7 separate regions of the Homo sapiens genome follow, and regions 1, 2, 4, 5, 6 and 7 are each linked to region 3. The links come from fine-mapping of genetic effects on gene expression. A gene starts in region 3. Each other region holds a variant in brackets. All regions are shown on one strand. Distances are from middle to middle. Region 1 overlaps LY75-CD302 (LY75-CD302 readthrough). Region 2 overlaps LY75-CD302 (LY75-CD302 readthrough). Region 3 holds the start of LY75 (lymphocyte antigen 75). Region 4 overlaps LY75-CD302 (LY75-CD302 readthrough). Region 5 overlaps PLA2R1 (phospholipase A2 receptor 1). Region 6 overlaps LY75-CD302 (LY75-CD302 readthrough). Region 7 holds the start of LOC124906083 (a long non-coding RNA gene).

What was found. PIP is the estimated chance that this variant, and not a neighbour inherited with it, causes the effect.
Region 1: its variant is fine-mapped to the expression of LY75 in whole blood (TOPMed, PIP above 0.99).
Region 2: its variant is fine-mapped to the expression of LY75 in whole blood (TOPMed, PIP above 0.99).
Region 4: its variant is fine-mapped to the expression of LY75 in whole blood (INTERVAL, PIP above 0.99).
Region 5: its variant is fine-mapped to the expression of LY75 in thyroid (GTEx, PIP above 0.99).
Region 6: its variant is fine-mapped to the expression of LY75 in whole blood (TwinsUK, PIP 0.94).
Region 7: its variant is fine-mapped to the expression of LY75 in whole blood (TOPMed, PIP 0.98).

The regions. Positions count from the first base shown.
Region 1 is chr2:159,857,454-159,861,522 of GRCh38, forward strand. LY75-CD302 (LY75-CD302 readthrough) reads right to left here. Exons shown (of 38, transcript NM_001198760.1): 15 at 3,368-3,436; 16 at 909-1,023. It overlaps LY75 (lymphocyte antigen 75), which reads right to left. Exons shown (of 35, transcript NM_002349.4): 15 at 3,368-3,436; 16 at 909-1,023. Among named protein-coding and RNA genes, the nearest start is that of LY75, 45 kb to the right of the region's middle. The variant C/T (reference allele first, on the strand shown) is at 2,095.
Region 2 is chr2:159,868,092-159,872,160 of GRCh38, forward strand. All of the region lies in intron 13 of LY75-CD302 (LY75-CD302 readthrough), which reads right to left. All of the region lies in intron 13 of LY75 (lymphocyte antigen 75), which reads right to left. Among named protein-coding and RNA genes, the nearest start is that of LY75, 35 kb to the right of the region's middle. The variant G/A (reference allele first, on the strand shown) is at 2,145.
Region 3 is chr2:159,902,607-159,906,675 of GRCh38, forward strand. It overlaps LY75 (lymphocyte antigen 75), which reads right to left and starts at 2,150. Exons shown (of 35, transcript NM_002349.4): 1 at 1,983-2,150. The coding sequence starts at 2,076. LY75-CD302 (LY75-CD302 readthrough) reads right to left here and starts at 2,150. Exons shown (of 38, transcript NM_001198760.1): 1 at 1,983-2,150. The coding sequence starts at 2,076. RefSeq lists enhancers at 1,062-1,111, 1,162-1,211, 1,432-1,481, 1,622-1,701 and silencers at 1,882-2,341, 2,111-2,352.
Region 4 is chr2:159,801,034-159,805,102 of GRCh38, forward strand. All of the region lies in intron 33 of LY75-CD302 (LY75-CD302 readthrough), which reads right to left. It overlaps LY75 (lymphocyte antigen 75), which reads right to left. Exons shown (of 35, transcript NM_002349.4): 35 at 2,322-4,069. The coding sequence ends at 4,011. Among named protein-coding and RNA genes, the nearest start is that of CD302, 4.9 kb to the left of the region's middle. The variant ATTTTTT/A (reference allele first, on the strand shown) is at 1,572.
Region 5 is chr2:160,001,198-160,005,266 of GRCh38, forward strand. All of the region lies in intron 11 of PLA2R1 (phospholipase A2 receptor 1), which reads right to left. Among named protein-coding and RNA genes, the nearest start is that of PLA2R1, 59 kb to the right of the region's middle. The variant C/A (reference allele first, on the strand shown) is at 1,817.
Region 6 is chr2:159,874,968-159,879,036 of GRCh38, forward strand. LY75-CD302 (LY75-CD302 readthrough) reads right to left here. Exons shown (of 38, transcript NM_001198760.1): 10 at 3,666-3,754; 11 at 3,357-3,526; 12 at 477-676. LY75 (lymphocyte antigen 75) reads right to left here. Exons shown (of 35, transcript NM_002349.4): 10 at 3,666-3,754; 11 at 3,357-3,526; 12 at 477-676. Among named protein-coding and RNA genes, the nearest start is that of LY75, 28 kb to the right of the region's middle. The variant CAAAAAA/C (reference allele first, on the strand shown) is at 2,042.
Region 7 is chr2:159,791,998-159,796,066 of GRCh38, forward strand. The region is part of intron 33 of LY75-CD302 (LY75-CD302 readthrough); the gene reads right to left. All of the region lies in intron 1 of CD302 (CD302 molecule), which reads right to left. LOC124906083 (a long non-coding RNA gene) reads left to right here and starts at 3,193. Exons shown (of 2, transcript XR_007087273.1): 1 at 3,193-4,069. The variant T/C (reference allele first, on the strand shown) is at 1,948.

The DNA of each region.
Region 1 (4,069 bases), 45 kb before region 3:
ATTTGAGGCTGGGTGCAGTGGCTCATGCCTGTAATTCTAGCACTTTGGGAGGCTGAGGCGGGCCAATCACCTGAGGTCAGGAGTTCGAGACCAGCTTGGCCAACATGGTGAAACCCTGACTCTACTGAAAATACAAAAATTGGCTAGGTGCGGTAGTGGGTGCCTGTAGTCCCAGCTACGCCAGTGGCTGAGGCAGGAGAATCACTTGAACCTGGGAGGCAGAGGCTGCAGTGAGCCAAGATTGTGCTACTGCACTCCAGCCTGGAAGACTGAGCAAGACTGTCTTAAAAAATAATAATAATAATTTGAGAATTAAAGTCTTAACATTTTTCTTAATATTTCATGTTTTCCTGGAAAAAGTAAAGTAAAATGGTATCTACATTTCTCCCCACTCTCCCTTCTGTTATCAAAGGCTATACTATCAATCTAACTGGCTTCTCAAATTTGAATTTATATAAAGTATTAGCAGTTTTATAGTTCATTGAAAATTGCTTCTAAATTTTACAGGGACCTGCCAAATTTTTATTTCTTGACTTCTGCCTTATTCTTCCCAAGATTATCTTTATTTTTTCATTTTGCATCAAAATAAAAACGAAAATGATTCTGCATTTCTCCTTTTGCTTAAAATAATATTTCATCCAAAATCTAATCTCCCTGAATGAGCCTCACATTTTATCTTCTATGCAAATTCTTCCATGATCAAAGAGTAAGATATCACTAAATTTCAATAAGCTAGCCTTCTATTAGAAGCCGGAGTCAGGCAGGGGGTGCTCCACATATTAATTGCATCATCATCATAGGCTTTTAGACATCAGAATTATAGATCAAAATGCTCCCCTAGCTACTTTGAGCTAGGCATTCACAATGTTAACATGAGAAGGTTGTGAAAAGGAATAACTACCACTTACCTTTTGGAATTTGGCACACCCATTCAAGTTTTGTATCACAAGCAAAAGGCCTCAAATAAATAAATTCTCTATCATCATAGAAATGCCAGCCTCTTCGCCATGGCCTATGAAATACCTATAAGAGGAAAAGTATTGCAGAATATTTTGAAGTTGATACATCCCTTATGGAACACTAAACTGTAAGCCCTATGACTTTGATCTCTATTTTAGCTCTAGCACCTAAGATATTTGTTCGATAAATGAACACATGAATTAATGGAATATTTAAACAGTAATACCCTGAGCAAGAGCCCTCAAAGGGGCTAACAAAGGAAATATGTTGTAAAGTCATGTTTATGTCCAAAATGCAAATTTTCTCCCCCACACCTGACAATTTTTGTTAGAATATTTATTTCAGAGGTATCCAAGCACCAAGCTGTGATCAAATTAGATCAGAAAGCGACATAAAGGTCCAGCCTCAGTGGCTCAGGCTCCTTCTCTGGTGTTACCATGCCATTTCTAGGATTTTGCCCTTCTCCACATGGTCCAGGATGGCTCATTACAAATTCCAGTCAGCAAGTAGGATAAAAAGGATAGGGGAAGGCATTACTTGGGAGAGACATCCATCACTTCTTAGACTATTTTCTCTTAAGACCAAGTTTCTGGGGGTTCTGTGGCAGGTGAGGTAAGATTTTCCTTACAGAACACTGCCCTGGCTGGGCTTGTTCCTGATGCAGGTTGCATTAGTATCTCTTTATTTATTTGGTAGATTTTCAAATCTCTCCATACTTGGCAACTCTATTTCCCTAGAACACAGTTTATTGTACCAGTGTTCTCAACACTACTAAAAATTCCATAAGCTTCTCTGAAGTTTTCACCTTTTCCTGTGTTACATTGGGAATTCTATAAAAATGACATGTACTACACAGTTTATTACTAGAAGAGTTACTTTGAAAACAGTGCTTTCCTGTGGTTTTGTCAGTTCTTATATCCCTCAGCCTTCCTGTAACATTTCTGGTCAGCCACCTTGTTGAATCTCTTTCTTGGACTACAAATCAAAGATATTAACTGATGTCTCCTCCATCTTCATCTTTTTTCACTCTATATATTGGCAGTTCCTCCAAATCCACTTCTTGGCCCTTTTTTTAAAAATATACATTTTCCTTTCAACTCAAGACTCTTGATCTCAACTTACCATAGCATACAT[C/T]TTATAGCTAGCTTGGATTCAAAATATCTGAACTAAAACATACAATTTTCTCATAAATCAATACCCTTTCTATTTCTATAAATGCCTAGTCATATAGCATAGTGGTTAAGAGTACCAGACCCAGACACACATGGGTGTAAATTTCAGTTCTTTCAGTTTAAATTTACTCCATGTAAGCTGGGGTAAATTACTCACAGCTCAAATTTCCATGTGAGATGAATACAGTAACAGTGCCTACCTCACAAGATTGCTTATGTGCTATGTGACATATGTGACATGCCTAGTATAGTGGCTGGCTCATAAAGGAGTTAATCAGTGTTAGCTGCTCCATCATCATCATCACCACCACCATGGACCATCACCATCACCATCCTTATTATTCTTTCATAATATTCTTGTTCTTGCATAAAACTTGTATTTCGCATGTCATAGTCTTTACTCAGTGGTGTTGTAATTGCTTGTTTACTTGTCTTTATTTCCTACTAGACTTTAGTTTTGTGAAGACAATGGCTATGCTTTGTACCTTGTCATTGTTCTATCACCCAGTGCCTCACTGACTCCTTGGACTGTTTATGAAATGGATACATGAATGCATTCTGCAAAGGAAGATGCCTCACTGGTCTTCTATGCCTTCCAATCTTACCTGTTGCTTTTGACATCTGTCTCAAGATGAATCTTCCTCATACCCTCCTTAGTTCATGTGACCCTCCCTACTCAGAAACTTTAAAAAATGCCCTGTTGCCTATCAAGAAGTGTAGAAATTCCTTAAAGTGGCATCAATCTGATTTCCTAATACTGTTATCAAGGACAGCACCAATGAAACTTCTTGATCTGTATTCTGTTCTCCACTGCCCTCTTCCACTTCCACCTTATTTTATACCACTTTCTCATACCATCCCCTCATGAAAAAACCTTACCCTATCCCATTTGTAGAAACTCTATCCATCCTTAAAGTCCCAGTTCAAGTCCCACCTCTTCCTGGGAAATGGCCATGGGACTCACTTTCTCCTCTGAATTTCATTAGCCTTCCTCAGCCCCCTCATTTGGAGCATATTACTGCGTGGTAATGAGAGAGGTTTTCTTGAATATGAATTTTATCCTCTCAAATGAAGTGTAAGTTAGGCTGCTGAGGGCCAGGCCATGGGTGTGCTTATCTCTCACTGCATCTAACATCATGCTTCACATAAAAAGACACTCCATGGATCTGTTACTTGACTGCATATGATGATGGACTTATGTTTTAAATATGCAGATTTTCCAGCATTGTACTGACCTTGACAGCAGCACAGTCTCTGATGTCATAATCCTGCTGAAACTCATTTGGCATGATAATAGTAGACACCTGAAAAGACAAGAGAGGCTTGAGAATTTAAGACTGATGTATAAATATTTGCAATTTAGATGTAATTTAGGCAGCCTTAATCACTCAAGTGCGTTGATATGCCACAGAAAGAAAACTTTTCCATCTCTTTTTTATATCATGATGCTAAATCATGAGAGGACTTAGCAAATGTCATAATGTCATAAGTTTCCAAACAAAGGAAGCCACAGTTTCAGAAGTGGAAGTTAATAGTGTATTAAGTTCGCCGCTGGAGTCATAGAGAATCAGGTTTGCAAAATACTTTTTTCTTTTTTTGCATGTGTTGAAATGCTCATTATTTGATTAACTAATCTCAGATATGCTCCAATTTGAAAATAAACTCAAGGAGTTTTACATTTAGAAAGAATAAAAAAGGAGGTGACATTGGAGTCACCAATTTTTGGTGACAAAAATTGGAGTAAATATTGAATATCTGAGAATAATTTTGCTCCTATAACTATTACACTAATATATCCTTATAATATAAATGTGGAATAATAGCAAGGATTTTCTAGAGGTTTCTCCAAACAAATAATTTCCTCCAATAAGGATACTTTTGGCCAGGCACAGTGACTCATGCTGGTAATCCCAGCACTTTGGGAGGCCAAGGTTGGC
Region 2 (4,069 bases), 35 kb before region 3:
TCCTTTAAGCCATGGTTACAATTTTGGTTTTAGAATATGTTCTCTAAGCACAGCACAGGCAAACAATTTCTTTATTATGGAGAAGTTATTAAGCAAACAAAGCAGTCTGCTTACCATGGCATTGTGTTAACTGCTAGGATCAGAGTACAAATAAAATACAGTTCCTATAAGTGAAGGGATTAAGGAGATTTGTTTTTTCTCTGTGCTGTTCTGTTTTCTAAATTCAATGTGCATTACTTTTATGATTAGAAAAAAATTAAACATAGTACATTCTATGGAAAATAGGTTTTGTAAAAGCTAAATGTGTAGAGATGTAAGTAAACAGAAAGGGTTTACACTAAGGGTTTACTATGTTTATAATCAGGAGCTAGGATTTGAGGTGATTGTTTGCTTCATTACTCATTTTTATATTTTCCAAATTTTATATAATGAACTTGTATTAATTTTTTAAAGAAGGGAGTGCTCAACAAGTGTGATTCAAAACAAAGAAACAAATCATAAAAATTTCCTTTCATGTTTTGTTTCCTAGTGTAATTCGTTCTGTATATGGATGCTCTTAATGGTCATTTCTATCACATATGATATTCCAATGTTTTCTACTTATTGTTTCTCACAAATATCTACAACCTCATTCATTAGTACTTATCCATGGCTCCTCGTTCCAGTTAGAGTTACTAACCTCTTGCTTGGAATCTAGAGCTTATGTCAGCATTTTACTTAAAAATACTTTATCTGGATAATATGATATTGTGTGTGTCAAGCTTGAAATCTAAGGGCCATTAAGTTGCCCTGCTTGAAACTTACATGTCAGGAAGTATTGGTGGTGTATTTGAAAGGCCATGCCCCACACATATACACCATGGAATACTATGCAGCCATAAAAAAGGATGAGTTCATGTCCTTTGTAGGGACACGGATGAAGCTGGAAACCATCATTCTGAGCAAACTATCGCAAGGACAGAAAACCAAACACCGCATGTTCTCACTCACAGGTGGGAATTGAACAATGAGAACACTTGGACACAGGGCGGGGAACATCACACACCGGGACCTGTTGTGGGGCAGAGTGATGGGGGAGGGATAGCATTAGGAGAAATACCTAATGTAAATGACGAGCTAATGGGTGCAGCAAACCAACATGGCACATGTATACATACGTAACAAACCAGCATGTTGTGCACATGTACCCTAGAACTTAAAGTATAATAATAAAAAAAAAAAAGAAAAAGAAAGGCCATGGTCCAGAGGTGGCCACCATGAGGACTTCCATGATCACCAAAGTCACACTGGAGGCTTTGGTCATGAGCAGAATGAATGTGAGAACTGGGTTAATGTCAGTGAAATCGGAAGCTTGTTCATCAGCATGATGGTAGGATTGGGCTCTCACTGGTGAAATATAAGTTATTTGAGATGCAGGGATTAGCTAAAATATTTAGAGAAACTCTCACACTTCTCAAGAGTGTATTAGAATCTTGCGAGGCCGCAGCCTGTATCTTAGTAGGGCTTGATTCGAAACAACCCCACATCCAGTCATTGGGTCAGGTGATTGTGATGGCCTGATACTCACTACAATGGGAACAGAATGCTGCCACAGAACACTGCCACATCTGCTTCAAGTAAATCTGTGCAAGGTGATAGTTAAAACACCAAAAAGGACAGATTGCTGGAATGTTGTCAAGCTTACAAAACACGTTGTATAAAATGTTTTGTGTCTGCTTCAATGAATGTTTGCATAGCAAATGTCTGTATGTGTGGAAAATTTTGGTCTGAATTTTGCATTTGTTATAATCTATTCTCAAGGTTGAGGGAATAGCTAACACTCACCTCACAAAGAACCCAAGAGTTAGTATTTAGTATATACAAATTGCCTTGGGTCAGTCTGCAGTGAAATTTTGTATATTAATTTCTAACACTGGACAATGATGTCTAGAATACCTGAGATTCTACGATAGATGCTTAATAAATAAATATTTATGGAACACAGGTATCATATTTTGCATTAGATTCCCAGTACACTGTAGTGAAACTACATTCTCTAATGAGAAAAACACAGCAGAAGCTATATTAGAGCAAATCTGGGCCAGGCACTGTGGCTCACATCTGTGATCCCAGCACCTTGGGAGGCCAAGGAAGGTGAATCGCTT[G/A]AGCCAGGAATCTGAGATTAGCCTGGGCAACATGGAAAAACCCGTTTCTACAAAAAAATACAAACATTAGCTGGGTGTGGTGGCATGTGATTGTAGTCCCAGCTACTTGGGAGGCTGAAGTGGGGGGATTACCTGAGTCTGGGAGGTTGAGGCTGCAGTGAGCTGTAATCATGCCACTGTACCTCAGCCTGAGTGACAAAACAAGACTGTCTCAAAAAACAAAACAAAAAGCAAATCTGGAAAATATAGAAATTTTCAAAGAAAACATTCTATTCATTTATTTTTTACAGACAGCATCTCACTCTGTTGCCCAAGCTGGAGTGCAGTGGCACTATCTTGTCTCACTGTATCCTTGAACTCCTGGGCTCAAGTGATCCTCCTGACTCAGCCTCCTGAGTAACCAGGACTACAGGTGTGTGCCACCATGCCCAGCTAATTCTTTTTTTTTTTTTTTTAAATAGAGATAGGGTCTCCCTATGCTACCCAGGCTGGTCTCGAACTCCTGGTTTCAAGCAATCCTCTCACCTCAGGCCCCCAAAGTGCTGGGATTACAGGCATAAGCCACCACACCCAGCCCATAGAAAAGACTTTAAAAATCACTCAAAATCTTACTTCCTAGAGATATAATAGCCATTACCCTTTTTGCAGTCTAGTTTTAAATGTAAATAGTATATTTTTTACTCTTTGATAATCTGTCTTTTCCTCTGCTTAATATATATAAACATTTACACATTATAGTATTGTTTTTATCTTAATGTGCAGGAGTTGAATTTCAAACCAAGATTAACAATAGTGATGATATAGGGATACTTACCTTTTTCTGACTTTCAGGGAAATGCACTTAACAATGCTTCATCATTAAGTGTGATATGGCTATTAATTTGAGCTATTCTTCTATTCAAATAAGAATTTACATATTAGTTATATTTACTAAATATAAGTGTATATTTATGTATTAAACCAGGAATGAATAGTGGATTTTACCCAATGCATTTTCAGTACCTATTAAGATGATCACATGACTTGTGATTATTAACTCAATTGCTATTTGAGTAAATATAAGACAAGCACATAACATAAGCAAGTGAAGTGGGGTCAAGAAGTAATAAATTAGAGACCTGGCAAATTGGAGAGTCAGGCCCCATTTCAGGAGGCCACCAGCTACTCAGCACTAACTTTTATCTGTTGCACAATGAAAATGTTGCTAGTTGCTTTAATTTTTAAAATTAAAAAATTTAAAAAATTTTTAAATTTTTAAGGATTTTTATTAGAATTTCACAATTTTGTAGTATTTTGTGGCCCCTTCCTCCCAGGAAAAGAACATTATAGTCTTAGAGCTGGATAAGTACTAATTGGCAAGCTTTGTTTTAAGTCTCTTTCAAAAGTGCAGAATTGGACTTTATTATTATTGAACAAATTTGCAGACTCACACTTAATCAAAACTGATAATGGGCTGGGTGTGGTGGCTAATGCCTGTAATCCCAGTACTTTGGGAGGCTGAGGTGGGCAGATCACCTGAGGTCAGAAGTTCGAGACCAGCCTGGCCAACCCCTTCCTCTCTGTGTATATATGTATATATGCAGGTATATGTGAGTGTGTGTAGATATAAATACACACACACGCACCTTGTTTTTGTTTTTTGTTTGGTTGTGTTTAATTACTTAAGATCAAACTCCTTCCCTTGCAAACAAGGACATTCCAATTTCATATCCAAATTCCATTTTCTAGCTAATTTGTATGACTCATTTCTCCTTGACCATATCTGTATATTCTGGTCTTAGTTCCTTTGCTTATGTTCTGTTTTTTTTCTGGCTCCTTCTCCTTCTCCTATCTTGCCTTTTGAAATAATACCTACCTTCCAAGAATCAGCCTTCTTTATGACATTTTTCCTGATTATACTCCCAGAAACACTCCCTCCCTCCTCT
Region 3 (4,069 bases):
CGTCCATAGATCACATATTAAGCATTTTGTAGAGTCTCTACCATGTGTTCGGAATGTACAGGTAGGTGCAGCAAGAGAGAATCAGAAGTCTAGGTTTGTTAGTTCAAAAACAGGTCCTGAAGTGACAGTTGAGTCCATGGCAATGTCCAGGGAGTCAGAAAGTCTTCACGCACGATTGGGTGGTGTTGGCTGGTGAAAACCTCAGGAGTCCCTGATGGATTGGTTTACTTCAAGCTGTTAGCTCTCCAAGCAGGCAAAAATGTAAACTAAGCACCTGGCATCTCTCCAAGGACACAGAGGGGCTCCTTCAGTGTTTGGGTAATAGAGGCCACCTGCACAAGCCTAGCCGTGCACATGTGACGAGGTGCATGCCATCACCAGCATCATGAAGCGGACACTCTTGCCAAACAATTGACCCAAATGGCTGGGGGTTCAAAATTCCAGTGCTTCCCCAAACAAGGCCACAAGTCTGCTCTGAGGGTGAGAGAAAATCGATCAGAGTAGCTGCTAGGAGTAAGGAAGGATACAGGATAACAAAACCTGTGGGGACCTAGCACAGGGGGAACAGAGTTAAACCTGGTGCTTTTTGCTTTGGGTCAGTGATAAAGGGCAGTGATTGCAGAGATTGCAAGAATTAGGGAAATCCTGAAATTTGTGAAGGAGATAAAAACAGGACTGAAGCAGATGTCGATGGGAACCAAGAGGTTAGTGATTGAAAAGTTAGTGCATTTTCACTGTAGTTAGTTGCTGCAGTGAACTTTTCCACCTTGGATTGTGGGGCAGGCAGAATAAATTATCAAGGCAATAAAGGATCTTATTTTAAAGGATTCTTTTGGTAGTTCCTAGCACACAGGGTCAAAGGAGAATAGAGAAGTGTGACTCAGAGCAGGGTTCATTTCCAGGTCCTTGCTGTAGATAGGATGATGCCATTCACACTCTGAGAAATCTCTTCCCATCGCTCTCCGAAGGAAGTCTAAACCAGATGGTAACTTAGCTTAGCTGCAAAGAAAATAAGAGCCACCAACAATTTAATGTTTTTCAAACTGCCTGGACAATCTTTTCCTTCCTCATACAGGCACGATAACAGAAGTGGCCGGTGGAGGGTGGCCCATTGAGTGCCCATGATGCAGTCCAACCAAGAAACAAAGTTCTCTGCACACCCCTCGCCCAGGCAAAAAGAGAAAGTAAAAGCAACCGGTTGCTGCCAAGGGGTGTGGTGTGGTGGGGCTGGCACTACCCTGAACATCAATGAAGGCTGTCTGTTTCTGGTCCTGCTTCCGCAGTGAGAGGCAGCAGGTCCCCAAGCAGGCGACCTGCCCTTCACCGTGAGGCTGTCAGCCTTGGGGGAGCGGGGTCATTTGGAGCTGATAAACCAATGAGAAGAAAGGTTTGTTGCTCTAGGCGGTGGGTGAGGGCATCATAGCTGACTCTTGGTCTTGGTCACTTTCGGAGGAGATGGTTTATTTAACCTGACTTCCTTCCTGATGCGCACCGTAGGCGCAGTGAAATCCGGGAATCGTGGGGAATCCTTGGCGCTGTGGGTGGAGGCTCCTCTTGGCCCTGTGGCCAAGGTGACCAAGGGCCGAAGGAAAAGCGAGAACGGGAGGGACGGGACGCAAGAGGGCAGATGGGGAACCCCATACTCCAGCAACATTATATAAGAGAGGCGACGATGGAGCAGCGCACCCGGCCAAAAAAGCCTCCGTGCGCCTACTCTACGGTGCACCGCGTCCCCTCTGCACCAGAAGGGCCCTGTCCTCCCACATCCACCGCGCCCTCCTCCGGGCCCCCGAGGGCACTGGGGCGCTTCCTCTGCCAGACCTCCCCTGCGACTCACTCTTCCGGCTCCAGAGCCCCCCCGCCCCAACAGCAAAGCAGCCGTGACCTGCCCCAGGGGCGCAGCCCTGCCCCAGGCTGGAAGGCAGCAGAGCTGTGGCGTCGAGGCACCCAGCGGACTGCGGGGCTGGCGTGCCCGCGGTTACCTGCGCGGCCAGAGGGCTCCGCGAGATCGAAGAACCAGAAGAGCAGCATGAGGAGCCCCGCCGGGCGGCGAGGGGTCGCCCAGCCTGTCCTCATCCTGAGCTGGCGCAAGCCTTCCGGCCGGGTCCTCGGGCGCACGCGGCTCCCGCCCCGCCTGCTGAGCGCGGCCTGCCCCGCCCGCACCTCTGTCTAGGCCTCTGGGGGCGCCCCGGCCCCGCCCCCGCCGCCCTCGGCCAATCAGACGTGCGTCTCCTCGGCCCCGGGGCGGAGCGGGCCAGGTGTGGGAAATGAACAGGGCTGGGCGCTAGATACCTGCGTGGGGTAGGACCCGCGAGGAAGAGGTACGTGCGGATCGGTGGGAGAGCCAGGCACCAGACAGGCTCCTGCACTGGAGGGTTCGGTCCCCGCCTCTTCATCAGCCAAGCTGGGGAGATGCGGCCCTTACTGGGACTTGGCACCGCCCTGGTGGGTGGGTTCTATCAGTTTAGAACCTTGGCCTCTGCCTGGCGCACTGTGGTCAGGGACGACTTCTCCATTCCAGCCTGGACTGGAAAGGGACCCATGATCTCTTCTACCCCGGAGGAGGAAGTGAGCACCTGCCCTGTGGGTGGCTGCGGCCAAGCCTAAGAATTCAGTCGTCCTTGGCAACGTCTTGGGTATTTTGACAGTGCAAACAAAGGTGGAATAATGGTACACTGCAGTTCTACCCATAGTTGTTAAAGAATTAAAAGCAAGAATTACTAGAATGACCAAACGACACTTCCAAGGATGACTTATGCTTTATAAAAAGTTGACCTTTGCGAGTAAGCTCTTTGCTTAATAATTTAATGATAATAATAATTAGCTGGTAGAAATGTAGAAGTCTGCATGCAGAACCAGAAATTTCATGTCCCACTCACTCTCTTCCTGTGGACACTGCTATCATTATAAAGAGGCCAAATTCTTAATGACCTAAGTTGCTCAAATGTGAATGTTTTATACTTTTAAATCTCGTCTTTGCTGAGCACATAATGTGTACTTGAGGTGGCCTCCATCCTTGTTGCATGAGGATGCAAAGACCTAGGTTGCTCTTCCTGACTCCCACTGCCAAGGTTTCACAGTTGGCTCCCAAACCTGCTCTGTCCTCTCCCCAGGGTCTGGCCTTTCAGTTCCATAGATATAGTGAGCACCTGCCATCACAGGATCTGGGCACGCCATGGAACAGAAGGACAAAAAGACAACATCTCTGCCCTCCCCTGAATACTGGGGAGACTGAGGCACTGTGATGGATAATATTGTCAGCTCGATTGATATGAACGAATGCAAAGTATTGTTCCTGGGTGTGTCTGTGAGGGTGTTGCCAAGGAGATTAACAGTGGACTGGGAGAGGCGGACCAGCCCTCAGTCTGGGTGGGCACCATCTCATCAGCTGCCAGCATGGCTAGAATAAAAGCAGGCAGAAGTTGGAAGGACTTGACTGGCTGAGTCTCCTGGCCTTCACCTTTCTCCCGTGCTAGATGCTTCCTACCCTCGAACATCGGACTCCAGGTTCTTCAGCTTTTGGACTCTTAGACCTATAAAAGTGGTTTGTCAGGGGATCTCTGGCCTTCGGCCACAGACTGAAGGCTGCACTGTTGGCTTCCCTACTTCTGAGGTTTTGGAACTCGGACTGGCTTCTTTGTTCCTCAGCTTGCAGACAGCCTATTGTGGGACTTCACCTTGTGATCATATGAGTCAATACTCCTTAATAAACTCCCTTTCATATATACATGTATCCTATTAGTCCTGTCCCTCTAGAGAACCCTAATACAGGCACACTCAGTGACACAGGGCAGAATGAATGGGGAAACTCTGACAAATGTTGAGGGAAGGCAACATCTTAGCTGGGTCTTAAAGAATGGGTAGGAATTTGAGCAGGCACAGCTGGTGGGAGAAAACCAGTGACAGGGCAGAGGCCAGAAAATGCAAGCAGAGTCAGAAGACAGTCCAGAGTCCAGGGTAGCTGCCCTGCGGGGGGTGTGTCTGTGAGAGAGATCAAAGTGGTTGTGGTGGGGGCCCCAGTGGAAATGACAGCAGAAAGGTGAGTTGTGTCTGTTTTGTGAAGGGCCTT
Region 4 (4,069 bases), 100 kb before region 3:
CTGTCTCCAACTTACATCCTCTTTTGGCTCATGCCAGACTTCAGTCCCTTGCCTGCATTTTTCTCAGCCTTTTATTTCTCCCTTCTCCACCCAGCCGAAATACCACATCCTCTGTCCCCTTGTTCCCCTGGTGTGCTCACCTGGCCAACTCGGAATCTGTGGTCTCCGCTTTCTTCTTCATGCTTTTTTTTTTTTTTAGACGGAGTCTCACTCTGTCCCCCAGGCTGGAGTGCAGTCGCGCTATCTCAGCTCACCTCAACCTCCACTTTATAGGTTCAAGCAATTCTCCTGCCTCAGCCTCCCGAGTAGCTAGGATTACAGGCGTGTATCACCACACCTGGCTAAGTTTTTTCTATTTTTAGTAGAGGTGGGGTTTCACCATGTTGGCCAGGCTGGTCTTGAACTCCTGACCTCAAGTGATCTGCCCGCCTTGGCCTCCCAAAGTGCTGGGATTACAGGCATGAGCCACCTCGCCTGGCCCGTGCTCTCTTTTTCCTCAACTTTACTGAAGTTAACTGAGGACAGGTGGAGGAAATCAATCAGTTCTCCCGATGGCTGTCACTATAAACAATATGGCTTTTAATTTCATCTGGGCCTTCTATGCCTCTTCTGCAATCCTTGTATTTGATTTTACCTTAGTCACTGTCCTCTCCTATTTCTCTCATTGAGTCTTTCAAATTTATTACTCTTTTCAAGCTAAGATCCCAGGCTGGGTATGGTGGCTCACACCTGTAATCCCAACACTTGGGAGGCTGAAGTGGGAGGATCACTTGAGCCCAGGAGTTTGAGAGCAGCCTAGGTAACATTGAAATCACCTGTCTCTAGGGAAAAAAAAAAGTTAATGTTGGAGGTCGAGACTGCAGTGAGCTAGAGTTGCACCACTGCATTCCAGCCTGGGCAACTGAGACAGACCCTGTCTCTAAAAAATTAAAAAACTTTTTAAAAGACCCCATCTGCTACCCATCTTTCTCAGCAGACCTTGCCTTCTAGTACACAAGAAAACAGGTGCCATTACATATAGACAAACATCTTCAAATGCTTATCTGCAGTTCTTCTCTTGTGGTCTCAGAGAGGAAGGCATGCTTCTCCAGCCCACCCAAACCAGTTCCTCTTTCTGCTTAGGACTGCCCCTCTCATTTTATCTTCTCCAAGATCTTCCATTAATGATTCCCTCTCCCCACTGCATCATCAACTTCTCTCTGTCCATTATTTTTGTTTTTGTTTTTGTTTTTTTCATCTCAGCTTCTAAACTTGTGAACCTCTTTCTCTCCCCTTTAGAAAAAAACCCTTTTTCAACCCTTCTTTCCCCTCTGGCTATGGCCCAGCCCCTTTCCTTTCTGTCTCCATCATACTTCTCGAAATCTCATGTTCCTCATCTCCTAATTTCCCTTTCAATTTTTTTTTTTTTTTTTTTTTTTTTTTTGAGACAGAGTCTTGCTCTGTCACCCAGGCTGGAATGCAATGGTACGATCTCAGCTCACTGCAGCCTCTGCCTCCTGGGTTCAAGAGAGTCTCCCGCCTCAGCTTCCCAAGTAGCTGGGATTACAAGCATGCACCACCACACCGGGCTA[ATTTTTT/A]TTTTTTTTTTTTTTTTTTTTTGTATTTTTAGTAGAGATGGGGTTTCACCATTTGGCCAGGCTGGTCTCAAACTCCTGACCTCAGGTGATCCACCCACCTCGGATTCCCAAAGTGCTGGGATTACAGGCACGAGATGCCACACCTGGCCTTCCCTTTCACTTTTAAACTCACTTCCATCTGGATTCTGGCTTCACTACTCTGCTACATTTGCATTGGCTAAGATGGTCATTGGTTTCCTAATTCCGAGAATCCAGTTTTATCTGACTTTGCCTTTCCAGTATTCAGCAATTGGATCAATATCGACTTGTTTTTCAAAACAGGGTCTTGCTCTGTCACCCAGACTGGAGTTCAGTGGCACGTTCATAGCTCACTGTAGCCTCAAACTCCTGGGCTCATGGGATCCTCCTGCCTTGGCTTCTTGAGTAGCTGGCACTACACATGGGTGCCACCACACCTGGCTAATTATTTTATTTTTTTTTAGAAATGGGGTCTTGCTTTGTTGCCCATGCTGAACTTGAATTCCTGGGCTCAAATGATCCCCCTGCCTTGGCCTCCCAAAGTGTCAAGAGGGATTACGGGTGTGAGCCACTACCCGCCTATTTATTCTCTAAAAAATGCACACAAAATCTCTTAGCAAATGCCTCGCTTTACAATAGGTGGTCAATTTATTTCTTGTACTATATGCCTAACATAAAAAACCCAATCTAGAGATTTTTTTTTTCAAGAAGGATCAACTCCAGCACTTTTACTTTTACTTAAAAGATAAAACAACTTTATTATGACATCACCATTATATACAGCTGTGCTTTTCACATCAAGTTGGCTTAGTTCTTGGAGGAAAGTCTTAGTGACTAAAATTGTACACAGATCACAGGACAAGAGAACTAGTCTAACAAATTCAATAAGAAATCAGGACAACTGTAGACTATATAAAAACTGTCTTAGAAAATTATTTACAACTTTATCATAGTGTAAATACTCTAAATGTAAAATAAATCTATGGATTTTATACAAAAATAAAGTACAAATGTAAGTTAAATGCCGAATAAAACATTTTCACCTTTTCCAGTGGATGCTATTACTAAGACTATAATCTAGGTGTCAAAACTTAAAGTGATAACCACAAAGCAATGTTTTCTTAATCACTCATAATTTTACATTTGTTAGTAGTCATCACAAGGTTTAGAGTTCCACTGAAAAAGTCTCATTTTTACAAATGCAACTCATACACTTTCCTTCATGGACCCTTTCTCTGTTTAACACATGTTAAAAAAGTAAAACAAAATTCTTAGTCAAAAGTTGACATGCTATGTGAAGCATATAAATTGTAAAATTATCAGTCTTAAATACCTAGTTGATTCTCTTTACAAAAGAAACAGTCATGTAATACATCAGAAAATGCAAAGCACACTGCTACAAGGTACCTACTCAATCTAAAAATAATGTTCCCACACTTGGGAAAATGTTAAGCACTAAATCTTTAAAAGTCATTGTTTTATAAACAATTATAAACAGAAAAAAACTCTTCATATTTACATAATAATGGTATGAAATAACTTTGGAATAATATAAGAAACATCTTGCCAAGAGGAATCATTTTGCTATATAAAAAGTAAGCAGAGGCCAGGCGCGGTGGCTCATGCCTGTAATCCCAGCACTTTGGGAGGCCGAGGCGGGAGGATCACCTGCGGTCACGAGTTCGAGACCAGCCTGGCCAACATGGTGAAACCCCATCTCTACTAAAAATACAAAAATTAGCCGGGCATGGTGGCAGTTGCCTGTAATCCCAGCTACTCAGGAGGCTGAGGCAGGAGAATCGCTTGAACCTGGGAGGCGGAGATTTGCAGTGAGCCGAGATCACGCCATTGTACTCCAGCCTGGGCAACAGAGAGAGACTCAGTCTCAAAAAAATAAAAATTAAAAAGTAAGCATGTCTTATTGTTTATTTTTCCCCAGTGCTAAAAATGACTATTTTGAAACAATGCTGATAGAGTTTACAGTTCAATTTTTACTTTGAGGTACTAATTTTGCATTTGGCCGGATGCTCTTAAAAATTAAAAAGTAGACATGTCACCTAGTAATATGCCTATTTTAATTTTCTAAGAAGTTTTGTTAAAAATTCTATTAAAATATACATATCCTAGTTACCAATCACATTCATACAGAGAAAATGAACATTAAACATATTACTGTACAAACAATTTGGACTTCAGTTCCAGCTTTGGAGTCCCCTCCATTCTATTAATTAGGGTGATAAACATGGCATTTAGCAGGGAATTAACTGTGGATACCAGCACATGCCTAAGATCTAAACAACTGAAAAAGTATTTAAGAGTTCTACTTTGGAGCAGAGTAAATACTGACACTGGGACATTTTAAGTGACTAATTTCTCATAACACATTAGTGCAAATTAGAAAACTTTTAGAAGAATTTAGTCATGGAAAGAAGGAAGCATAATCTCATCTTCATTCACTCCTTGTGCATATCGAA
Region 5 (4,069 bases), 99 kb after region 3:
AGCAACAGCAAATTATAATCCTTTTAAAGATGAATAACTTTGATATTGTTGATTTTGTTAAGAATGCATGTTGAATAGCTAGTGTAACAAATAAAAAAATAGATTTAGATAATACAATTTTCAGATAAGTAAAGGGGAAAGAATGAAATGAGAAAAGAAGAAAAAGATACATTCAAAAGATGGCAAGAAAGAAGAGAAAACATGACTAAAAAATGCAGGATAAATGGAAAGGACATAATAAAATGGAAGAAATAAATCCAATTCTATACATAATCACAAAAAATATAAGTAAACCAAACTATACAGTTAAGGACAAAGAATGTGTGAATAGAGTTTTAAAAATTTAGTTATATGCTGTTTATAAGTGATACATTAACTCTAAGAACACAAAAACATTCAAAGTTAGAAAAAAATTTAAAAAATGTACTAGGCCAATACTAATTTTTAAAAAGTTACTGTAGCTACATTCATGGACAAATTAACTCTAAGGAGAAAATAATTTTGAAAGAACAAGAGGATCACTTGGGATACTACTATACCGATTTTGACACCACAGGTGGGATATCACAATTCTAAACTTGTATGTTCCTAATAAAACAGCCTAAAAAGTATGTAATACAAAAATTCGACAGAACTACAGGGAGAAGTTTACACATCTACCATCATAGTGGGAGGTATCAAACACTCTCAATAATTGATTGATCACGTGGGCAAAAAATATTGAGGCTATAGATGATCTGAACAACACATTTAACATAATCTGTTGACATAGATGAAGCATTTCAGGTAGCAAAAGCAGAATATACAATCTTTTCAAGTACATATGGGATATATATATATAAAAAGAACACATGCAAGGCCATAATACCAACTTTGTATTTGAAAGGACAGGCACCAAACAAACCGTATTTCTTGACCACAGTGCAATTAAATAAGGTATTGACAACAAAAGGAACTAGAAACACCTGCATTTTGGGAAATTAAAAAAAATCTTCTAAATAATTTATGGGTTGAAATCATATTCATATTGGAAATTGGAATGTATTCTAAATTGAAAAATTATAAAACTCTACTAAATCTTGTGAAATACAACTCAAGCAGCACTTGGAAGGAAGTAGGAAGCCTCAGTAGTCTTATAAGCATTACAGAAATTGAATTAGTGGTTTTTAAATTTCCTATATAAAACATAAGGCAAATTCTAATAAATGTTTACTGTATATATAGTTCTGTAGAGAATAAAAGTGAACACTCTCCAATTCATTCTATGAAACTTAGCATAATCATGAAACCAAAGCTGTATACAAATGAAGAAATGTGGACTAGTTTTCCCTATGAAAAAAGGTTGCTAAAATCATAAACCTACCACTCAAAGGTTAGTTTGTGTACCTGCAACATAGGCAGCACCTAGGAGCTTTTTAAAAAATGCGGATTCTTGGACTTTACCCCAGATCTACTGAATCAGAATTTTAACTTCATCAAAATCTACAGGATATTCTTATGTACATTATAGTAGGTGAAGCTTTGTACTAGCAAACTAAACCCAGAGATGTATTAAAATACATATCACTAAGTTAAGTTTACCCAACAGTACAAAGCTGGTTTACTACTGTAAAGCAATTTGTCATATTAAGAGAGTAAAGGAGAAAACCTTAGGATTGTCTTAGTAGATTCAGAGTGTTGAGTAAAATTTAAAATCTGTTAATAATTTTAAAAAAGAGCTCCAAGAAAACTAAGAATAATAGAAATTATATTCTTGTATTACTGCTCTCTTTTCAGCTACATTGATTCTATTTTTTCTATTTCTTTTTCAATACCA[C/A]ACTGCTTGAATTATGTTAGTGCCATATTGGCAGGGAAACAGAAAATGAGAATGTAGGTTATGTTTATTATGGTATTTCGAATCAGTAGACGAAAGGGTGAACTTACTATATAGTGTTGAAATTGGTTACTATTTAGAAAAATTAAAATGAGCTATCTCCTAGAACATACTTTTAAAATCTCAGATCAATCAAAATTATACATTTAAAAAGCCAAACTATAAAAATATAAGGTTATATTTTTATAATCTTTGGTTGAGCAAAGCCTTTAGAAAATATAAAAATCTACAAAGCTAAAATGAAAAATATAAACTTTTTTACTACAAAAAGTTTAACATTTATGTGTGACAAAACATACCATAGAAAAATTAAAAGGCAAATAGCAAACATGTAGAGTTTATATTTAGAATATAATGAAATTTCCACTAAGTAATGAGAAAATAGAAAGTGTCCAAAATAAAAATAGAAAGTGATCAAATTATGTGACCATGTAGTTGAAAAACAAAACAAAATGTATAGAACAAATATGAAAAATTGCTCAAATAACTAAATGAAAAGGTAGACATTAAAAGAATAGTAAAACTTTTTTTATTCTATCAAATTGGCAAAAATGTAAAAGGTTGTTACATTCAGTATTGACAAAAATGTGGGAAAGCTGCCACTCTCAAATTTTGTTAGATGAACTTGTAAACTGATAATGCCTCAGTAAGATGTACACTTTTAGGCCAACATGCTCATAGTTATGCACAGCGACATCAACATAGAGATATTTGTTGTAACACTTTTGTAGCAGAAATGAAAATGAATTTCACCCAATGTCCTTCAACAGGGTCATGGCAAAGCAAATTATGAGTCCTACATACTATGAAATTCTATGTAGCTGTTTCAAATGTCGACTAATAAATATTGATGTGGAAAGTTCTCTAAGACAGATTGCTAAGTGAAAAAAATCAAATAACAGAAACATGCAATCCTTATATCCATTTAAAAAGTACATATGCATAAATGTATTTAAATGCAATGCATAGACAAACACCAGCAGGATCATACCAAACAGTTAACAGTGGTTGTTTCTGAAAAGGGAAATGTATTGATGTTGGGAAGGTGAAGAGAAAGATGTAACGGAGTACTTCCACATTTTACTTAGCACACTTCTCTATAATTAGAGCATCTACATAATTTACCATCCAAGCCAGAAAAATTTGGAGTAAAAATACCTGCTGTTAATTGCTCTGGGACACCAGACATAAATTAGAACTGTTCTGGGCAAATGAGGTATATGGTCACATTATCTATAGTAAGAATATATTCATGATTTCATCGTTGAATTTTAAAAATCGGTGGAGCTTTGCCAACCACTGTCTAGAGTTGGGATTAGCAAACCACCTTGGACTGGACTTTTGTAATTATGAGAAACAAGGCTTGTGTGGCCACTTTTATATTTTAGTGTGAGGCCACACTAAAGGGGAGATATACCTCCCCCTGTGGCTTAGCAAACACTTTCCTTACCTTGGTATATAGAGCTCTGAGGATGGAATAGACCAATTTGTATAAAGAGCTCCGGGCCTTCAGGGAGGGAAGAGCCTGGGGCCCCTAAGCCATTTCCTCTAGATACAAACTTAGTAACTCTTTGCTGTTGTCTCTGGCACAGCCCTGATGGAGATACAGGCAAGCAAGAACTCACCCTGAAGTAGAAGGGCTGTTGGGTCTAGGCTGTCAACCTCAGCTTAATACAAGGGCCTGAAGCTTGTTCCACAGAGACTGGTTCTAGTGTAGGCTGTGGCGGAAGACATCAGCTTCTCTGGTACTGACCAACCTGGCACAGTTTCATGCCTTGGGATTCAGAGCTGAACACCTGAGGATGAACTAGTAGAGCTGTTAACGCTGGAATCCTGGCTAAGGTACCCCAGGCAGTGACTGTGAACTGATTGGATGTACCCATATGTGCCCATCCACCGTACTTTGAAGTTTAACTGACCATTCTGAACTGAGTAAGCACTTGAGATTCTTAGACAGTGGGGGGTGCAGGTGGGGAGAAAGACATTAGGAGGGAGAAGCTGGACTTGCTGCTAATAAAGGCAGTGGTGGTCCTGAGCGATGAATTTATACCTTTAACATGTCAAATGACTCATACGGATTATACTTTTAAAAATGACCATTGGGCCAGGCAATTTGGCTCATGTCTATAATCCCAGCACTTTGGGAGGCCAAGGTGGGAGGATTGCTTGAGCCCAGGAGTTCAATATCAGTCTGTC
Region 6 (4,069 bases), 28 kb before region 3:
ATATATATATTGTAAATATGTTTATAAATATATATATTGTATATATAAATATATATATTTGTATATATACACACAAATATATATATGTTTGTAAAAGTGTAAATATATATACACTTTTTTTACATTATTAGGAGTGCTGGAGCTGTTAATTTGACAACAAGAATTAGAGGAATATGAGGATCATAGGCATAGTGGCAGTATGGCATATAGTACACCAACTTACTGGGAAAAAAAGACCTTGGGGTGGAGCCACTTCTGGCTTTGGGCCTGCCCTTTCAGGTAGGACACGTGCAGGGTGTGGGGCTGAGGCACCTCACACCAGAGGTTCAGCGATGCCCTGCCAAGGACTCTGTGCTCCAGAGCACTTTAGTTAGGTTACATAGTACTATGGAGAAGAGCATAATTTGTACAAGGACATGAACAAGGGTAGTGGAAAAATAACTTCATTGAAGGATAGAATGAGAATGTCACTTTACCTTATAACAAGAAAGACTTGCGGGGAAACTCTGCCAGCCTTCAGGACAGGGGTCATCAGGCTTAGGGGATGCTTCTTCAGGCCCAAGGGGTCCACTCATTTTCTTGCAAATTGAAAGTGCTTTGAAGCTTCTGCAGTCCTTCACCTCCCACTTTCCAACAGACTTTCCAGTAGACATAGCCACGCAGCCGCCCGGGGAAGCTGGGATTGAAGTGGAAAGCTCAATTAAAAATTAAAACGTTAAAGTTCAAACATTTTCTAGTGTTTCTACTCTTTACTTCAGCCAAGTTGGGGAGAGAGAATAAAAAAAAAATGGAACAAAGAGAGGAAAGAAATATGTTGTTCAGAATAATAATGACAGGTGTTTATTATTTGTAAAGTACTTTTTGAAAAAGATTAATCCTCATAACAAACCTATGGGGGGATTCTATTGTCATAATTTGAGGTACAGTGAGAATGAAGTGACTTGTTCAAGGTCATAGAATTAGTAAGTGGTTGCCCCAGGATTTGTGCCCAGGTGGTCTGTTTCTAGAGCTGTACCCTAAATACTACTGCTGCTTAGGATAGTGGTTCAAATTAGCTTAAAAACTTTGAGCAGTTTTTAAGAAACTTAGTTAACCTCAAAACACAACTCTCCCAGATTCTGATCCAAAGGAAAAGCTGGTACAATAAAGGTAGAAGGAGGTATGTGGTAACATACATTTGTTTACCGTTAATTTTATGACAGTCATAATTTTATGTATTCATAACAGTATTAAAAGGTAGTTTGAATTATCAGTTCCATTTTGTAAATGAAGACTAAGTAACTTGCCCACAGTCAGAGTTAGTGAATGGTAGAGTTGGGGTTGAAACCAGATTTGTCTGACAAAACATCATGTTCCATTTTCCATTACATCACACTGCCTGAAGCAGGTAAAAGACAAGAAGAGTTACATATACTGAAAAGTAATAGGACAACTTCTATCCCACCAAACAGAGAAGCCACATAGTCTCATATACACAAACAGCAAGAGGAATAAGAAACTGGGAAAAATAATTGCCTTGCTACCCTGAATGGGTGTGCTATTTTTCCCTGTTCAGTCCTTCTATCCACGGTGTGCCCATGATAGACCAAGTTGGCTGAGGATGGGTGCAATAATGGTAAAGAGAGCTTCACATAGCCTTTCTGGTCATAGAATGGAGGAAGTAGTCATGGTAGCTACTTCCCAAGCACCTCTCCAACCACCAAGACTTAGTTATCAAGAACGTCACCTTTACTCTTAGTGTCTATAAAACAAATCTGGCCAGGCACGGTGGCTCACGCCTGTAATCCCAGCACTTTCGGAGGCTGAGGTGGGTAGATCACCTGAGGTCAGGAGTTCGAGACCAGCCTGGCCAAAATGGTGAAACTCCGTCTCTACTAAAAATACAAAAAAAATTAGCTGGGCATGGTGGCAGGTGCCTGTAATCCCAGCTACTTGGGAGGCTGAGGCAGGAGAATTGTTTGTACACGGGAGGCAGAGGTTACAGTGAGCCGAGATCGAGCCATTGCACTCCAGCCTGGGCAAGAGGAGCGAAACTCCATCT[CAAAAAA/C]AAAAAAAAAAAAAAAAAAAGAAAAAAGAAAAAGAAAAAAAGAAATCTATGTGCTTTATCCATTAGAGTGTTCTTAATCTGAGATTTAACCAGGATCAACATCTGTATACTCTATCTTTTTCAGACATAAAAGGATGACTTTGTTACTAGCAACATCACTCATGTTGATGGTGATGACCATGTGTCCTAACTTTTGTGGGCATTTTCTATTTCAAATAACATGTTCAATTGTAAGCTCATATTTTCCAATCTCTGTGTTATAAAAAATAGTCTTCATGATCACATTAGACCAACACAATAAAATATAAATAATTCACAGGGTGAAAAGTAGAATGCTTTATACTGCTGTCTTATTCAAAGCCACTGGCTTAAAAATCAGGAACTCTGGATTTCATTAATTCAATAACCAGATGATCTTTGTCAAGTAAATCACCTTTTAAAGTCTCTGTTTTCTTAACTCTAAAAGTATTTCTGAGGTCCTTTCCGGCTTAAGTGTTCTGATTCTATGGCAAATTATGGTCAATGCTTTAGGCTGGTTGGAGAAAGAGGAAATAACTTTCAAAATAAATAAGAAGCCAGGCACAGTGGCTCACACCTGTAATCCCAGCACTTTGGGAGGCTGAGGCAGATGGATTACTTGGGGTCAGGAGATCGAGACCAGCCTGGCCAACATGTTAAAACCCCATCTCTACAGAAATACAAAAAGTAGCTGGGCATGTTGGCATGCACCTGTAATCCCAGCTACTTGGGAGGCTGAGGCAGAAGAATCACTTGAACCTGGGAGGCAGAGGTTGCAGTGAGCCGAGATCACACCACTGCATTCCAGCCTGGGCAACAGAGTGAGACCCCATCTCAAAACAAAAACAAAAACAAAAACAAAATAAATAATACAAGATAGCCTCCATAATTCTTACCCATTGAGAATAATGGAAGAAAACACATTCAGTTTTGAAAATAGGTTAAGAAGCAGAGAGATGAAAATGTAAAGAGCCTCACACGGGAGCTTCTAGATTCTATTTGAGATTTACATGGAAAAGATTTTAAAAACTCACACTGGTGCTTCTAGCTCTGAGCCATTAGATGGTGGTTTGGGAGAACTAAGTTTTTGAATTTCTTTCATTGGATTATTCCCAAGGACATAATAGGGAAGACATAGCCACTGCTTCTATTTATGGTTCCATAGATAGACTCCAATCCTGAAGATCATCATGTCCCTCACATTTCAAAAGTAAGTGAGGAACATCTTTGGGAGGAGTGCTGCCTTTCACTAGTCACAGTATACTACTACTTCAAAGATTAAGACACTCACCTGGCTCAAGAAAATTCCAGTTGGAAAAGGTTACAGCCCGCCTTCTTCCACCAACAGTTGCCCAGTTATACTCTCCACAAGAATCTACATCTCTCAGGCCAGTCCAGAAGTATTTTCTTAGAGATTTATCATACTTTTTCATCAAATCATTTAGGTATTCTTGCTCAAATCTACAAAAGGAGAATCAAATTGGCAAGTGTTTCACAATGATTGACTCTATTTGAAGATGCACCTTTTACTTAGGAAGACTGTTTGGCAAAAGAATTCAGAGTTGAAAGTTTATGAGTACAAGTTTACTGATGGTCACACCTGCTAGTGATAGTCAGATTGCAGTTTGTTCCAAAAGGGACCTCATCCTCATAAATCTTGTAACAGGTTTCTCCATGTCTCTTCCAGCCCTAAGTCAGAGGAAAAATATTGTCAAACTCTTTTCCAGACTTGATGGTGTCCCGTCTGGCAAGCATGTTTCTGCTACATTGATAACGTCTTAGAACTTGTGGAAATTGAGGACATGGCTATTGAAATCATACATGTGATGAGGGTGGGATGCAATTTCACAGATAACCTCCACAAGACTGTGGGCCTGTGTCAGACAAAAAGTATGGGTTACTTCTCATATGGGTGGCTGGCTCATCATAAGAGTATAATATTCACTGGATGAATTATTTTTGAATATTGATATTAGTGGGGGAAGTAAAGACATCAGCCTTGAG
Region 7 (4,069 bases), 110 kb before region 3:
AACACTTATTATATACAGTTTCTCTGGGTCAGGAATTCTGAAGCAGTTGCTTGTCTGGGTGATTCTGGCTTGGGGTCTCCATGAAGTTACAGTGAAGATGCTGGCTAGGGCTGCAGCCATCTAAACACTGAACTGGAGCTGAAAGGTCAGCTTCAAGAAGCCTCACTCATATGGGTGGTGAGCTGGTGCTGGCTGTGGGCAGGACACCACAGTTCCTCACCACGTGGACTTCTACACAGGGGTGCTTGAGGGTCCTTATGACATGGCAGGTAGCTTCCCCCAGAGTGAGTGATTCAAAGGAGGGCAAAGGTGGATATGCAATGCTTCATACAATCCAGCCTTGATTGTCACACTGTCTTATTTCCATACTATCTTATTGGTTATTGTATTAGTCAGGGTTCTCCAGAGAAACAGAGAACCAACTCTGTGTGTGTGTGTGTGTGTGTGTGTGTGTGTGTGTGTGTGTGTGTCTGAAAAGATAGGGAAAGAAGTCACATGGATATTTCAGGCAAACAGAGGGAGGAGCAAACACAATGCTACTGTGTTGCACAGTATGGGAATGACTATGATGATGATAATGATAACCAGCTACTCAAAGACCATTGCTGAATAACTAAGTTAGCAATACAGAAATGGTCCCGAACTTAATAATGGACAACTTACGATTTTTTGACTTCACAAGTTTATTGGGATATAGCCCCATTCTAAGTCGAGGAGCATCTGCATGTGACAAGACCAAAAAAAAATTTTTTTTTAACAGGGTATGTATAGAAAAATAGAAAACAGACTGTTGACTCACTTCCCCAAAACTTTCAACTGCCTTCTCCTTAGGCTCATTTCAGCATTAGCAGTAACTCCAGTTAATTCAACATGGAACCCCTTTTCTCATGCTATAGATCCCCGATCAGAGTGTGTGCCCCAGAAACAAGTTTTAAGCACTACTCAAAAGATATATTTTTACTTTGAGAAGAACAGTGCTCAAATAGAGGCTGGATAACTCCTGTGAGGAGATTGTTGACGTTCATGCACCTCATGAACAAAAGACTAAACTAAGTCGTCTTCAACGCTAAGTATCTTTGCCATAATCCTAATATAATTAAAAACCTGCCCACTAAGCTCTCTGCAAAGGGCCTATTACTCTTATTTCTTCACAGCAGTCCTGAATGATAGGTTGTTATTAATAATGCACTTAAATGACTCTTAGGGATTTTATAATTTTATAATTCTTTAATACGTACAGAAATTCAGGAGCCTCATGAATATTTTAAAAGCTGTACTTAGCATAACTCCAAAAGTTTCTATATAGATCCTCTGCCTAAAATTATCATGTGCTAAAAGAAGATAATGTCATATCCACAGGAATACTTTGCATTACCAGTCAAATCTAATAGAACTCTCTGTTCCTTTATAAGTTCTCTGTCTCTCTTTTTTTTAAAAAAAGAAAAAAAAAACAGGCACAGCATGAGGAAGTGATTCTTGGGACATACTTGTTCTAAATGTTAACAAAGGAAAAGGGAAAGACTTCTTTTTCATTTTCATTGTCAATAATAAGACCTTTGCTCCTCTCCCATTAAGATATGAGTTGTAGTCACATAACTTCCGCAAGGGCAACTGTGGCACAGACAGATGAAGAAGAGGGGCTATTTATTACATTTATAATGTATGGAGGAGGGAGTGGCTGTTCCAAGTCCCTGACTAATCCAGAGATTCTGTGGCTGTACTCTGAGCTTCAAGATCTCTCTGAATCCCAAATAAATTGAGGCACTCTGACACCTCATCCCCTCTCCATATCACTCTTCCCAATCTAGCTTTCAAGACATCCATCTCCATATTGTCCCATCACTTCCCTCTTCAGAAGGGCTGTTATAATGTATATTCATAGAAGGGGTGTGCCATTGTTAATCTGTACCTTTCTCTTTGGGCATCACTGGTCTATTTTTTAAAGAT[T/C]TGGTCTCAAGATTTGCTCTCAAAATCTAAAATAGGCCAGGCGTGGCAGTTCACACCTGTAATCCCAGAGCTTTGGAAGGCTGAGGTAGGAGGATCACTTGAGCTCAGGAGTTTGGGACTAGCCTGGGCAACAAAGTGAGACCCCACCTCTACAAAAAAAAAAAAAAAAAATTAGCAGGGCATGGTGGCATGCACCTGTAGTCCCAGCTACTCAGGGGGCTGAGGTGGGAGGATCACTTGAGCCCAGCAGGTCAAGGCTGTAGTGAGCCATGATTGCACCACTGCACTCTAGCCTGGGTGACAGAGTGAGGCCCTGTCTCAAAACAATAAAATAAAATAAAATAAAATAAAATAAAATAATAAAAAAAAAAACACTAAATAACCCACAGAAGGAATGAAATACTTGATATGCACAATAAAAATTATGGAAAGTAACCTTGCTGCAAAACTAGTTTTCAACACATAAGCAAATTGTTAAAAGATTCTCAACAGTAAAAGAAGTCCTGAAATAATACCTAATTGAAATTTCACTTTTTCATTGGAAGAAAAATAAACATTAACATTTCAAAATTAATTAATTTATTTATTTATTTATTTATTTATTTATTCATTTATTTATTTTGAGACTGAGTCTCGCTCTGTCGCCCAGGCTGGAGTGCAGTGGCGCGATCTCAGCTCACTGCAAGCTCTGTCTCCTGGGTTCACGCCATTCTCCTGCCTCAGCCTCCTGAGTAGCTGGGACCACAGGTGCCTGCCACCACGCCCGGCTAATTTTTTGTATTTTTAGTAGAGACAGGGTTTCACCGTGTTAGCCAGGATGGTCTCGATCTCCTGACCTCGTGATCCACCCGCCTCGGCCTCCCAAAGTGCTGGGATTACAGGCGTGAGCCACCACGCCCAGCTCAAAATTTATTTTAAAATACTCTAATATTTAATCTGAGATAATTTCCCCTGAAACATAACTGTGCCATACACAAGAGTCAGAAAAGGTGGCATCAGGCCGGGCACGGTGGCTCACACCTGTAATCCCAGCACTTTGGGAGGCCGAGGTGGGCAGATCACGAGGCCAGGAGTTTGAGACCAGCCTGGCCAACATGGTGAAACCCCATCTCTACTAAAAATACAAAAGTTAGCCAGGCATGGTGGCGCATGCCTGTAATCCCAGCTACTCGGGAGGCTGAGGCAGGAGAATTGCTTGAACCCAGAAGGTAGAGGTTGCTGTGAGCCGAGATTGCGCCACCGCACTCCAGCCTGGGTGACAGAGTGAGACTCCATCTCGGAAAAAAAAAAAAAGAAAGAAAGAAAAGGTGGCAGCAATAGATTAAGATGATTTAAGGCTTTGAATTCATTATGAAATGAGTGCATAGCAGAGGTAATATAATTTGAAAAAAATTGCAATCCACTTATCCTACCTACTTTTTAAATAACTCACCTAAATTTTTTCATCCTTTTATTATAACTTAGAATAAAGTGCAGAGACACAAATCAAAACAAAACAAAAATCCACAAGATGGTAAAATCTCTGTTATGGAGCTTCTTTCCCCTGGTAAGAGAAGCAACAAGCAAGACAGATGAATAAACACAATGCATTCAGAAAGGCTTGGAAAAGATAAAACATGGACATGTGACAGAGAATGTGGGTGTTCAGGGAGGCTTCGGAGAAGGTGACATATGAACAGAGATCTGAATGGTGGAGGTGGGGGCAGCCATGCCAAGGACTGGGGGAAGGTGGTGTGCACAGAAGGACCAGAGGTGTTGGAGTACCCAGATACTGTTTACTCTGTGGATACACAGAGTGAATGGCAGGAAGGGTGGTAAGAGATGACATCAGGGAAGAAGGCAGAGGCACCTCATCTAAGGCTTGTAGGACATGGCAATTCAAAATCCCTAGATTCTGATCCACATGATGATCACAGAATGAGGACTTACTCGGAACATGCTTGTTCACTCAGCTCATGCCAGGCATAGGAAACCACTGACCAAATAAATACATACTGATCATCTATTATGTGCTTAAGCACCCTTACGGAAAAACTTTTTAAAGCGATGCCATGGATTTTCACTCAGGAATTTAAAGAATGTTTTGTCCACTGTGATTTTCAAAATAATAGCTAAGAACAAG